2 separate regions of the Homo sapiens genome follow, and region 2 is linked to region 1. Evidence: fine-mapped expression QTL. A gene starts in region 1. The other region holds a variant in brackets. All regions are shown on one strand. Distances are from middle to middle.

The links. PIP is the estimated chance that this variant, and not a neighbour inherited with it, causes the effect.
Region 2: its variant is fine-mapped to the expression of CADPS2 in lung (TOPMed, PIP above 0.99).

Annotation. Positions count from the first base shown.
Region 1 is chr7:122,883,476-122,888,856 of GRCh38, reverse strand. It overlaps CADPS2 (calcium dependent secretion activator 2), which reads left to right and starts at 2,397. Exons shown (of 30, transcript NM_017954.11): 1 at 2,397-2,858. The coding sequence starts at 2,520. RefSeq lists silencers at 1,990-2,149, 2,160-2,319, 2,390-2,469, 2,480-2,529, 2,570-2,699 and an enhancer at 3,060-3,109.
Region 2 is chr7:122,555,579-122,560,959 of GRCh38, reverse strand. The region is part of intron 7 of CADPS2 (calcium dependent secretion activator 2); the gene reads left to right. All of the region lies in intron 3 of LOC105375481 (a long non-coding RNA gene), which reads right to left. Among named protein-coding and RNA genes, the nearest start is that of RNF133, 140 kb to the left of the region's middle. The variant T/C (reference allele first, on the strand shown) is at 3,251.

The sequences.
Region 1 (5,381 bases):
ATTGCCATTATCTTCCAGGTTATTGGAACACTCATCAGATTGCAATCCAAATATTGATTATTTTAAATAAATGTTTTTTTCATTTGTCATTCCTTAACTGATAAACTTCTTACGGCCTATATCTTGTTTTCCTAAATATATCCAGTATAGCTTTAGCATATGTTAGTTTCTTAATCAATGTATGTTTAATGATGCTTAAACATTCTCTTTGTTGTCTTTTAGATATTTCTTTAATTTATGCCTCTTAAGTCATCTTCATCTTCATGGAGAAAACACTGTATATTCTGCTCTAAAAATTATTAGATGTTTTCCTGTGGGATCCTCAAGGCTTGGAGATCTTTGACTTAATAACCACCTTTAATGGGAAAAGAATAAGTGATCACATCAAGTAATATTGATTAATAAAAGGAACTGAAAAATATACCTATTGTTGGCAAGAAAAGGGCAGTAAAGTTGCTATATTTAAATCATACATTTATGTCCCTAGAAATTTTTATTAGTTTAGTAAACCTCATACATTTATTATACTGTCTTATTATCAAGGCAAATTGCAGTAGAAAATGACACTATTTGGAACTAGAAAACTGTTTTGAGTCCTTATTCCATTAGGTGCTAGTTCTGTACCCTAAGGAAAGGATTCTTCAACTCTCAGGTTCCTTATTTGAACAATGGAACCTAAAATAAATGAGATAATGTATGTAAAGAGCTTAGTGCAGTATCTGGTTCAAAGGGCAATCAATAATAATACTACCTGCCTCAGAAAGCTATTACTTTGATGAGGGTATTAAACAATTTCACAGATCTTTGCAAAGTGCTAGATAAGCATCAGCTATTATGACAAGATTGCTATTTGTTTGCCTTGCCAAAAATAAAACATTGCCTTTAAATACATAGGTGTTTGAGATTTTCTATTTCTTGGCAGTTTGTGATCATCCCACAGCCATGCTCTTACTGAAGACCTTTTATTACTAGGGGGCCTGTTATGGATTAGGCAGAAAAATAGGTAAGACTCCTCAGGAGTAAATGCCTCCTTGTCTTTTACCCATCTAGAGAGAATGTCAGTAAGTGCAGAAGTCTCTCTTGTGTACCTAACTATATGAAAGTGGCCTGAAAAAGCTAAAACTGCTGTTTGACCATGGTGGTAGAGGAGCTCAGAGCTGGTAGTTAATTTGCCCTGTGTTATTTCCACTGAACTTCATCACCTCCCTGCCCACCTGGTCGCTGCACACTCCACCTGGTGTTGAATGCATTGTTTTGCCTATTTCCCCCTCTGTCAGGACTTAGGACATAAGATACAGAATTACTATAAGAAACTCCTAGGTGGTTCCAGCACTAGGACTGAGAAATCTGCGCAGATAAGGCAGGCTTCAGCGCAGCTACAAGACGCCGACTTGAGGCCAGAACCACCAGCGACTGAGTGTCATGTGCCTTAGTCACCGCGGGCTCCGCAAAAGGCTAACAGTGCTGGACACCGGGAGGGCGCTCAAATCTTTGTTGAATAAATGTCCACACTACACAACCTGTTTTGAGTCAACTGCATCCCAACCCAGAAAATAATCGAGATATGTTTGAGCTGAATCAGTATCATTTTGCACATATAAAATCTCTCTTGCCTTGAGTCTGCAGGACTAGAACAGTTTAAAAAGTAAGCCTCGTTGGTTTTCTTTTTTTTTTCATTACTCCGACTTTTATAATTTGGGCTTCAGCATGAGTATCAAAACGGCAGCAGAGCAGAGTGAGACTTTTCAAAGTCTTGTCGCAAAGATACTTCGTGGTGAAGGGCTCCAGTCCCGCTTTTCCGCGCTGGGGTTCAATCCTAGGCAGCCGATTCGGGTTGGGGAGATGTCTCGGCCGCTCCCCCTAACCTCTTGCTAGGGAACAGTCCCTCCCCGCTCCCCATTCCACCTCCACCTGCTGGAGAAAAGATCACAGGTGGTAGGGTGAGGGTAGTCGGAGCAGCCCCGGTGGACGCTTACACGGGCCATCGCGCTCGGCCGCTCCCCGCCTTTGCAAACTGTGTGCTAGGGCTCCAGGCGGGCCCGGGCAGCAGCGGCGGCGCGCGCACGCGCACTCCGCGGCCCCGCGCGGCTCTTCAACATTCAATTCCACGTGTTGCTTGTTGTAGGCGCCACAGGTTCCCCACCTGCGTCCGGGCGCTCGGGCGGCTCCGCCTCTGCCGGCGGGCTCTGGGGAACCGCTGGGTCGGCGCGCCCGGGGCTGGCGGAGCAATTCCTGAGGCGCCCAAGCTCACCCCCAACGCTAACTCCGCCTATTCAGTCCCGGCGGCTCCCCCTCTCCCCCCTCCCAATCCTCCTCCCGGCTCCTGCCCGCCCCTTTCGCCCTGGTGGTAGGAAACACTCCTGAATCTAACTCGACGTGTCCGGAAAGCCCTGGCCAGTTTTCCTTTCGTTCTGCGGCCGCTGCAGCCAGCCCCGCGGCTCCCTCAGACCCGCGGGCGCAGCCGCCGGGGGTGAGGCGCTTGGGGACCGCGGGCCGAGCGGCGGGGATCCCCGAGCACCATGCTGGACCCGTCTTCCAGCGAAGAGGAGTCGGACGAGGGGCTGGAAGAGGAAAGCCGCGATGTGCTGGTGGCAGCCGGCAGCTCGCAGCGAGCTCCTCCAGCCCCGACTCGGGAAGGGCGGCGGGACGCGCCGGGGCGCGCGGGCGGCGGCGGCGCGGCCAGATCTGTGAGCCCGAGCCCCTCTGTGCTCAGCGAGGGGCGAGACGAGCCCCAGCGGCAGCTGGACGATGAGCAGGAGCGGAGGATCCGCCTGCAGCTCTACGTCTTCGTCGTGAGGTGCATCGCGTACCCCTTCAACGCCAAGCAGCCCACCGACATGGCCCGGAGGCAGCAGAAGGTGAGTTGCGGGACCGGGCGCCTCCTACCACCACTTCTCCCTGGGTTTTTCTCCCGGGAGAGCTCTGGGACGCCTCCCGTCCTTCTGCGAAACGCAGGACACCGTATTTTTGTTAGTCTCTGAGGGCAGAGGAATCTTTGGGGACAAGACGGTGCTTTCACCCGCCGGGTATGCGGCTGCAGCGGACACCTCTTCTCCTCCTCCCCGCCTGGGCTGGCAGGAGCTGTCAGCTCACCATCCGTGAGACAGAGACCGACAGCGCCGGCCGCGCCGCGGTTGCACCCGGCAGGCGCAGCTCTGGCCGGATTAGAATGCAACTCCCATCAACTTTAATTTCCAACAGCACTGGTGCATTCCTGTCCACCTAGCCTGGCGTGATATTGCTAGAGCTGGGTTTGCCGAGGGTCTGAATGAGTGTTGTAGCTAGGCGAAACAGGTGGAGCCCGAGTACTTCTCTTAGCTAGAGTGAAGTCTTCACTTAAGAGGGGTAGAAATTTTCCTCAGTGAATAAAAAAGTTAAATTAATACGTTTCCTATATTGTCATACAACCAGGACATCAAATCCAAACACCGAGAAGGCATGCAGCTTTGTAAAGTGTTTGTGGGTAAGTAATTTCTGGTCTGGGCAGGCCTGATTAATGAAATATACTATTACTGATGAAAGATAAAGGATTGGTGCATGATCACTTCATAACAAATGCTTTCCAAATGCTTTTTTGGGGAACAAAATGCTTATTCTCCCCCAAAAGGTAAGAAGTTTGTTTCAGGTGAAAGGCTGGCCAACTTGAGTTTCAAAACAAGACCCCAGGGGCCTGATGTTCTGTACCAGACACGAGTAATGACTCAAATTGTCCTAAGTGGTTAAATGTTTACAATACAAACTCTAGGAAATCTTTTTAATAGAATGCTGAACCTGGAAGGTTCTGTAGAAATCGGTAACAGTTCCCTCAGTTTGTGACAAGACCTAGAGATCCAGAGAGATTGTAGTCTGCTCAAGGCATACCTACATGCACAGACATTTATTAGTTTTCTGAAATATTAACTTCAGTGTGTGAGGCATTTTTAGAAATTTGGAGAGGTTTTGAGTTGACTTCAACTATAACTGTAGTTCAGAGTAAATTCAGTCTCCCTACATTCTCCTACCCCCATTTAGATAACCTTTATTTTTTGAGGTATAATTGACATGTAAAAAGCTGTGCATACCACTCCACCCTAACTATTGGTGGTTTCATAGGTGTATAAGTATCATGGGGATAAGTACACACCTATAGTTAACACTATTGTATGCTTAAGATCTATCCTCTTAGAAAAAAATTTTAAGTGGTCTTACCCAACTTTTTAAAACACACACAAACTGAGCAACTATTTTGGAATCATTTATTCTCTGGGAATCCTTATGGAATATTTCCTTACAGCTGGAGATTAATAACAGATCCTTCAGGTAACCTAACCCTAGGTATTCAGTCACAGAATGGTAGGGAGACTCCTCATGTTGGAGAAGAGAAATAGGTCATAATAGCATTTCCCAATCCCAAACAAATTGGCACAGTTAAAACCACCATTACTCAGGTAAGTTTTGAATGCCCCGCGGTGTTTTTATGAGCCTGCTGCTCCACTCCTGTATGAATCCCATACTTCCTAATCAGCTGCTCTAATTGAGTCTGTTCTGAGGCAGTCACCCGTGGCCTCTTCTCAATTCTAGTCAAGCGACTGTCAGCTTCAATAGTCATTGTTAAAACTATTTTTTGTATATGTTGTGGTATGAGTTCATATCATCCAGTCTCTAGTTTTACCATTCATATTGCATTTAAGCCTATTTTTAATGATTAAAGTGTAAAAATAATGTTTGGTAAAATTAAGAGACTATTTTCTCCTTGGAATATTATCCTTGAAGATGCTTTTGCAAATTTACTATGAGTTGATTTATACTGTGAATACTTGTTGCATTTTGTTAATGAAGTGGACCCTCCCTTAGCTGTTCAAATAGTGCATTTTTCTCTGACTCCTTCTGTTTAAATATTTGTTCAAAATTATTTGAATTGGCAAGCAGGTGCATTCACAATACTACTGGGGAGACTATTGTTATAACCTTATCCAGGCATTACCAAAGATAATTTCAAACTACAAAAAAAGCAAAATACAACATATATTCTATGAAAAAAAATAGAATCCTTAGGAATTTCCACATTCTAAATGCTTAGAGCATTGAGCACAGGTTAACTTTTGTGAATTACTTTTATTTTTTATTAAGATGGATGCCAAATAGCCTAAGTATTTACTTTACTCAACCCTCCCCCACCTTTTAAAAAATGTGCTGCTTACTAAAGGGAGCTGGAGCAACTTTTGGCAGTCTGGTTTCCTCTTAGGGCAAAATGAAATGGGAATTTAACTATGTTTATGTGAATTTGATGCACAAGCTAATAAGTAATGCCAAAACTTACTTGAAGTCTTGCATTATACAGTTAGATTATCTAAAAGAAGTAACAAGGTAATTGCAAAATCACTAATCCGTTGTTTATTTTA
Region 2 (5,381 bases), 330 kb after region 1:
CTTCACATACTATAAGGGTTCTGATATTGGGGCAAATATTAATATATGTGGTTATTAACATCTGCTAAATAAATACTGAAGTGAAAAAAACTTCAGGTAGTCCTTTCATAATATATGCTACCTCAAGGTTCTACACTCTCAAGAAGGTATTTGAAAGATTTGCTAGAGACTGTCTTTATGAATCTTTGCTAAAGTATAAAATCTCTGTCAATTGAAAGAGAAAAAGAAACATCAACTAAACCCAAAAAGTCAAGGTTTCTTGTAGAGATAGGCTCTACTTATCTGGAAAGATGTTCCCTCAGCCATTTGCCTAAAATATCCTTTGTCTCAAGGACACCTGTTTGTAAGCAGAAGTGATTTTTAATCAAAAATTGAACCATGATTTCTGCTAATTGTGTTTTTAGTTCCTTCTTCCTCTGTTTGAGGCTAGTTCATCACTTAGTTGGATATGAGAAACCTGATCATTGAGTCACATGACTCATCTCTGAGATGTATGTAGCTAGAGAGAGGGGAATTATTCTTTACTTGAGTATGAAAATTTGATTTTCATTCTCTGGTTTGTAAACATTGTTTTACTAAATGTTACCTATATAGGATAACACACGCTTAGCAAAACACATTTCTTACAGTCTATCCCTAATCTTCCATAATTACTGGTTTTATCCATAAGCTTAACCTTCTGGTATCTCCTTCAACCTACCTTCTTGTATCTCCTTCAACCTACCTGTCTGTATTGTCATCCTCCCTGCCTTTACACACAGTAACCTTCTAGCCAAAATGATTTTGCCCAACTTACCTGATTTTGCCAACTTAAACCTTAAATGAAGTCTTATTCTATTCCTCAAACATGATATGTCCCTCACACCATTGCTATCTGGCCGCAACTAAACTTTTTCCTGCTCAGGTCTCCAGTCACCTCTCTCTTTTTTAACCAGGCAATAGCCTTTCAGACCCAACAATGTGCAGCCTCTTGATCCCCATGTGACCCTGATGCCCCCTTCCTACTACCTAAAAAACTCTCCCCCTTAAATTTGGTACATCACAAACTTCAGCTTTCTTCTGCCTCCTTGGTGACTGGTCTCAGTTATAGAGTCTTGTCCCTTTTCCTAACTCTAGAAAGGTGGTGCCCAGAGGGTTCTCGGGTTATCTTCTCTCTTTTTCTTTTCCTTTTTTTTTTTTTTTTTTTTTTGAGGTGGAGTCTCGCACTGTCACCCAGGCTGGAGTGCAATGGCACAGTCTCGGCTCACTGCAACCTCTGCCTCCTGGGTTCAAGCTATTCTCCTGTCTCAGCCTCCCAAGTAGCTGGGATTACAGGCACCCGCCACCATGCCTGACTAATTTTTTGTATTTTTAGTAGAGACGAGGTTTCACTATGTTGGTCAGGCTGGTCTCAAACTCCTGGCCTCGTGATCCACCTGCCTCGGCTTCCCAAAAGTGCTGGGATTACAGGCATGAGCCACCGCACCTGGCCCTCTCTTCTTATCTTTTAAGAACATAAAGAGAATTGACATGGCAGAAAATGTAATGAGTGTTTGTACTGATTGAAGTTCTTTTCGTGGAGAGCGGTGGAAACGGACTGAGGCTAAGTCCAGGGAACAGAGAAAAAGTTGAACAGCCAAGCTTGGGGAAGAGCTTGAGAACCTAGAGTAATGTTACAAATGTCAGCATTGGAATCATGTGTTTTTTTCTAGGGTGCCGCTGTTACAGTGTTTGGTTTCAACAGCCCCCATATCTTTATTTTTCATCCCCTACCCCATGTCAGCCTTATAAATCTTAGGTGTTCTTTTAGACTTCCAAGTGAAACTGTAATTCCTCTATGAAAGCTGTCATGATTTTTTCAAGAATTGCTGAATGCACTCATCTTTGAGCTAGAATTGTACCAACTGTGTGTCTGCTGTTTTGCCATAAGATATGGTGCAATTATTGTGGTCCCAGGGTCTTTTTTCCTTTCTCTAAGCTAAGAGACATATATGGGAGAAGGTAGTGAATTGTCTGTCTAGCCCCTCTGTTTTTCTAGCTTGTCTCCCCCAGCACCCAGTGCTGTTTTGTTTTTTGTTTTAGTTTTTCAGGTGCTTGTTGAAACAGAGTTTAGCAATTTAAATAGTCTTGATTTCACAGATCACAGAGTTTATGCACAAATGTATGTAGTTTGGCCTCAATCAGGTATCTCAGTAGAAAAGAAACAATGTAGAAGTGACAGCTTATATATTTTAAGAGAAAGCTACTTCTGAACCCCATATCACTCTAAACATTTCTGTGTGTAAATGTGTATTTTATATTTCATTTTTTTAAGTCTTAGTTTTTCCTCCTGTATATTAAATTTGATGGAATTTTTAACAAATCCTAAAAATCCATTTTGTGGTTTCCATTACACCTTAGCAAAGATGACAAGTGACACTGACATTTTATTATGAAGAAGATACATTAGCTTTATGTTTAAGACAAGAAATCATTTTTGTGCCATGCTGACAAGACATTTAAAGTGTTGGTGACAAAAATAAATGAGAAGAAGCAGAAATGCATACGGAAAGGTTAAGAGAAACGAATGGTAAAGAACAAAATAGTTTGCTAAATAATATTAAAAGTTATTTGTACAGAGCTATAGTTTAATTTAAATGCGAATTTAGGATACAGAAGGATCCTTAGTAAGCTTTTATATCTGTTAAATATTTTAATTATTATGACTGTCAACATCAGACACAATCTCTAAACATGAACTGAGTCCTATTGAAGTGGAACTGCTTCTAATAAAAAAAAACAATTCTTCATTATTTACTTTTGAAAGATTTTGAAACAAAATACCTTGTTGATATACTAGTTAGGATACTGCTAAATGCTATAACAAGAAAGTCGTTACATTTCAATAATTCAAAATAATATCAGGTTTGTAAGAGTTTACCACAGGTATTCCTGATAGAAGTGTGACTTTCTTCCACATGGTGATTTAGGGCTCTGATTTCTTTCGTTTCCTAGGTATTGGTGTTCTCTGAACTTGGCTGGCAGTGGAATAAAGTGGGGTAAAGACATCAAACCTGTATCTTGATCACCTTTTCCCAAGGTGACACATGTCACCTTTAACAAGAACTTTCATATGTCCCTACTTAGAAGCAGGAGGAGCTAGAAAACCTGGTTGTTGGCTAATTAGCTGTTTACTAGCAACAGTTCTATACTGGTGAAAGCATGAATCGTGGCAAATAGCCAGCCGGTGTGCCATAGTTCACCCTTGTGGCCACCAAGTTGTTTTGTTGCC[T/C]TTCTTCCTAAACCTAGAACACATTCACCTTATCTCAAGAGAAACAGCCCAAAGTCCTATTTCATTTTTATATCCAGTCCAATATCTGTGTCACAGCTAGCAGTGGCCCTTTGCAGGCTGGAAACCTGTGAACTAAAGTTCATGGTAACTGCCTACGACATCTTCCCTCCCCATTCTGCCTCAGGATAAATCCAATATACAGTAACGGAACAGGGACAGGAGAGCTATGGGTAAGTTTGCCACGTGGAAAAAGGAAAAATGGGAAACGCATGGCAGTAATTGTCCAATTACAATAATGAAATCCTATCTGGCAGGCACTGTGAAGACACCCTGCCAAGGAAGTGTCCCAGATCTCTTGATTAGAGCTGTATTGTGTGTTCTGAAAAGAACTCCCTTGTCCTTTATTCTCCATGGCCCTCTGGGCTCTGCACCTTGGGAGCTGCTTCCTTATCTATTCATTCATGGCGAAATTGGATAAAGGAGTATGACCACTTTTTTGCTTGTGCAATTTGGGAGCCTGAAAACTATTTTACAGACCATTTTGAAGTTTAAGTTCAGCATTTATTTACCAATGCACTTCTCTTAGAAACAGAAGATTTCGTATCTGTGGACCTCCCCTTGTTACACGTGCCAATGTTCACACCTTTATCAGTCAGTCTGTCCAGAAAAACAAACATTCCCACGTCTTTCCAGTGGAGGGAACATAACATAGGGAATTAGATATACATATGATAGGGAGAAGCCAAGCAGATGATTGTGAATATACCCAGAAATTAACTAAATCAGGAAACCATTGCATACTCTAGGGAAAGAAGAGCAATAGGAAGAAGTGATATTATCAGAGCTAAGAGTGCTATTAATAAAAGACATAAACTAAGCCCTATTGAAGAGGAACTGAGCTCTTGAGAGATGTGAGCCATTCATGTTCTTTAATCTTTGTGTATCCTCACATAGTAAGAACTCAGTGTTTATTTAATTGAACAGAGCTGAGCAATAAATCCTTCCACTGACTTCAGTTAGAAATACCCATCAAAAAATAAAATGTGGCAGAAAAAATGGTATTCGATATTGGGATAGCCTTTAATTTGTGGATCAGCCAAAATCAGTTATTTTGGGACCTAATTTAGCAAGCCATCATCAGCATTTGCAGAATGAGAAATTGTCAAAAGTTTTAATTTAAATATTCCCTTCCTGTATAAGAGTTCAGAGTTTGGTACAATACCAATTTTTATATAAACATAGAAGGAAGAATTAAAAAACAATAAAGTCTGTAAGTGGCTCATGCCAAATAATTTTTTTAAAGTTGGTGTGGGGGATGGGTGTGGAGAAAGAGAAAAAGCTTTCCAGACTTATTAGGAAAATAGCAGCTATAGCTACAGAGGATATAGAGATCTATCTTAGTCTTTTATTCTTTTTTGGAATAATCTTCTAAGTTGATAATGATATTCCTTTGTCTACTGGTTTGAGCCAAAAGCTATCAGCTTATTTTTCTTTACTGTCACTTAAGAAAGAATCTGTAAAATATTACACTGGATATTTTAGCAGTCAAAATGAATTCTAGAGTATGATCATAATTGTGAAAACATTGTAAATGTCATTTAGTTTGTTCTTAGATGTCCTTTATATACTTGAGTATATAGATATGCTGGATTCAACACAGCTATGGCTTTATAGGAAGGACTTGAGAAAAGTCTCAAAATAGTAGATACATTTAACAACTTGCAAGTTGAGAATAGTTTGAGAAGCTTTTATGACTGTGTTGTCTTTCCTAGAGAGAAGGGGAGTCTTGCTTAAAGATTTCTCAGTGAAGATTTCTGCTTATACTGCAAATGAGGATTTGAGGGTAGGGGAAGGGCATGACAAAGTCAATTGCCATGAATGCTTTCAAAACATTTTAGTATTAGAATCTAAGAATAGAAGGCAGCCTTATTAAATTGGTAAAGACTATCCCTAACAACTTGAGACTGGACTTAGTTTTGTTATATTAAAGTAAAATTATAACAGTATTACAAAGAAATTTCAGATTCACAATCACTTTGTGTTGCCTCAAGATTTATGCACAAGAAGATATGTTTCAATATAGTTTTAATGAACATATTTATTTTGTTTGTGAAAAAATTAGAATACCTGA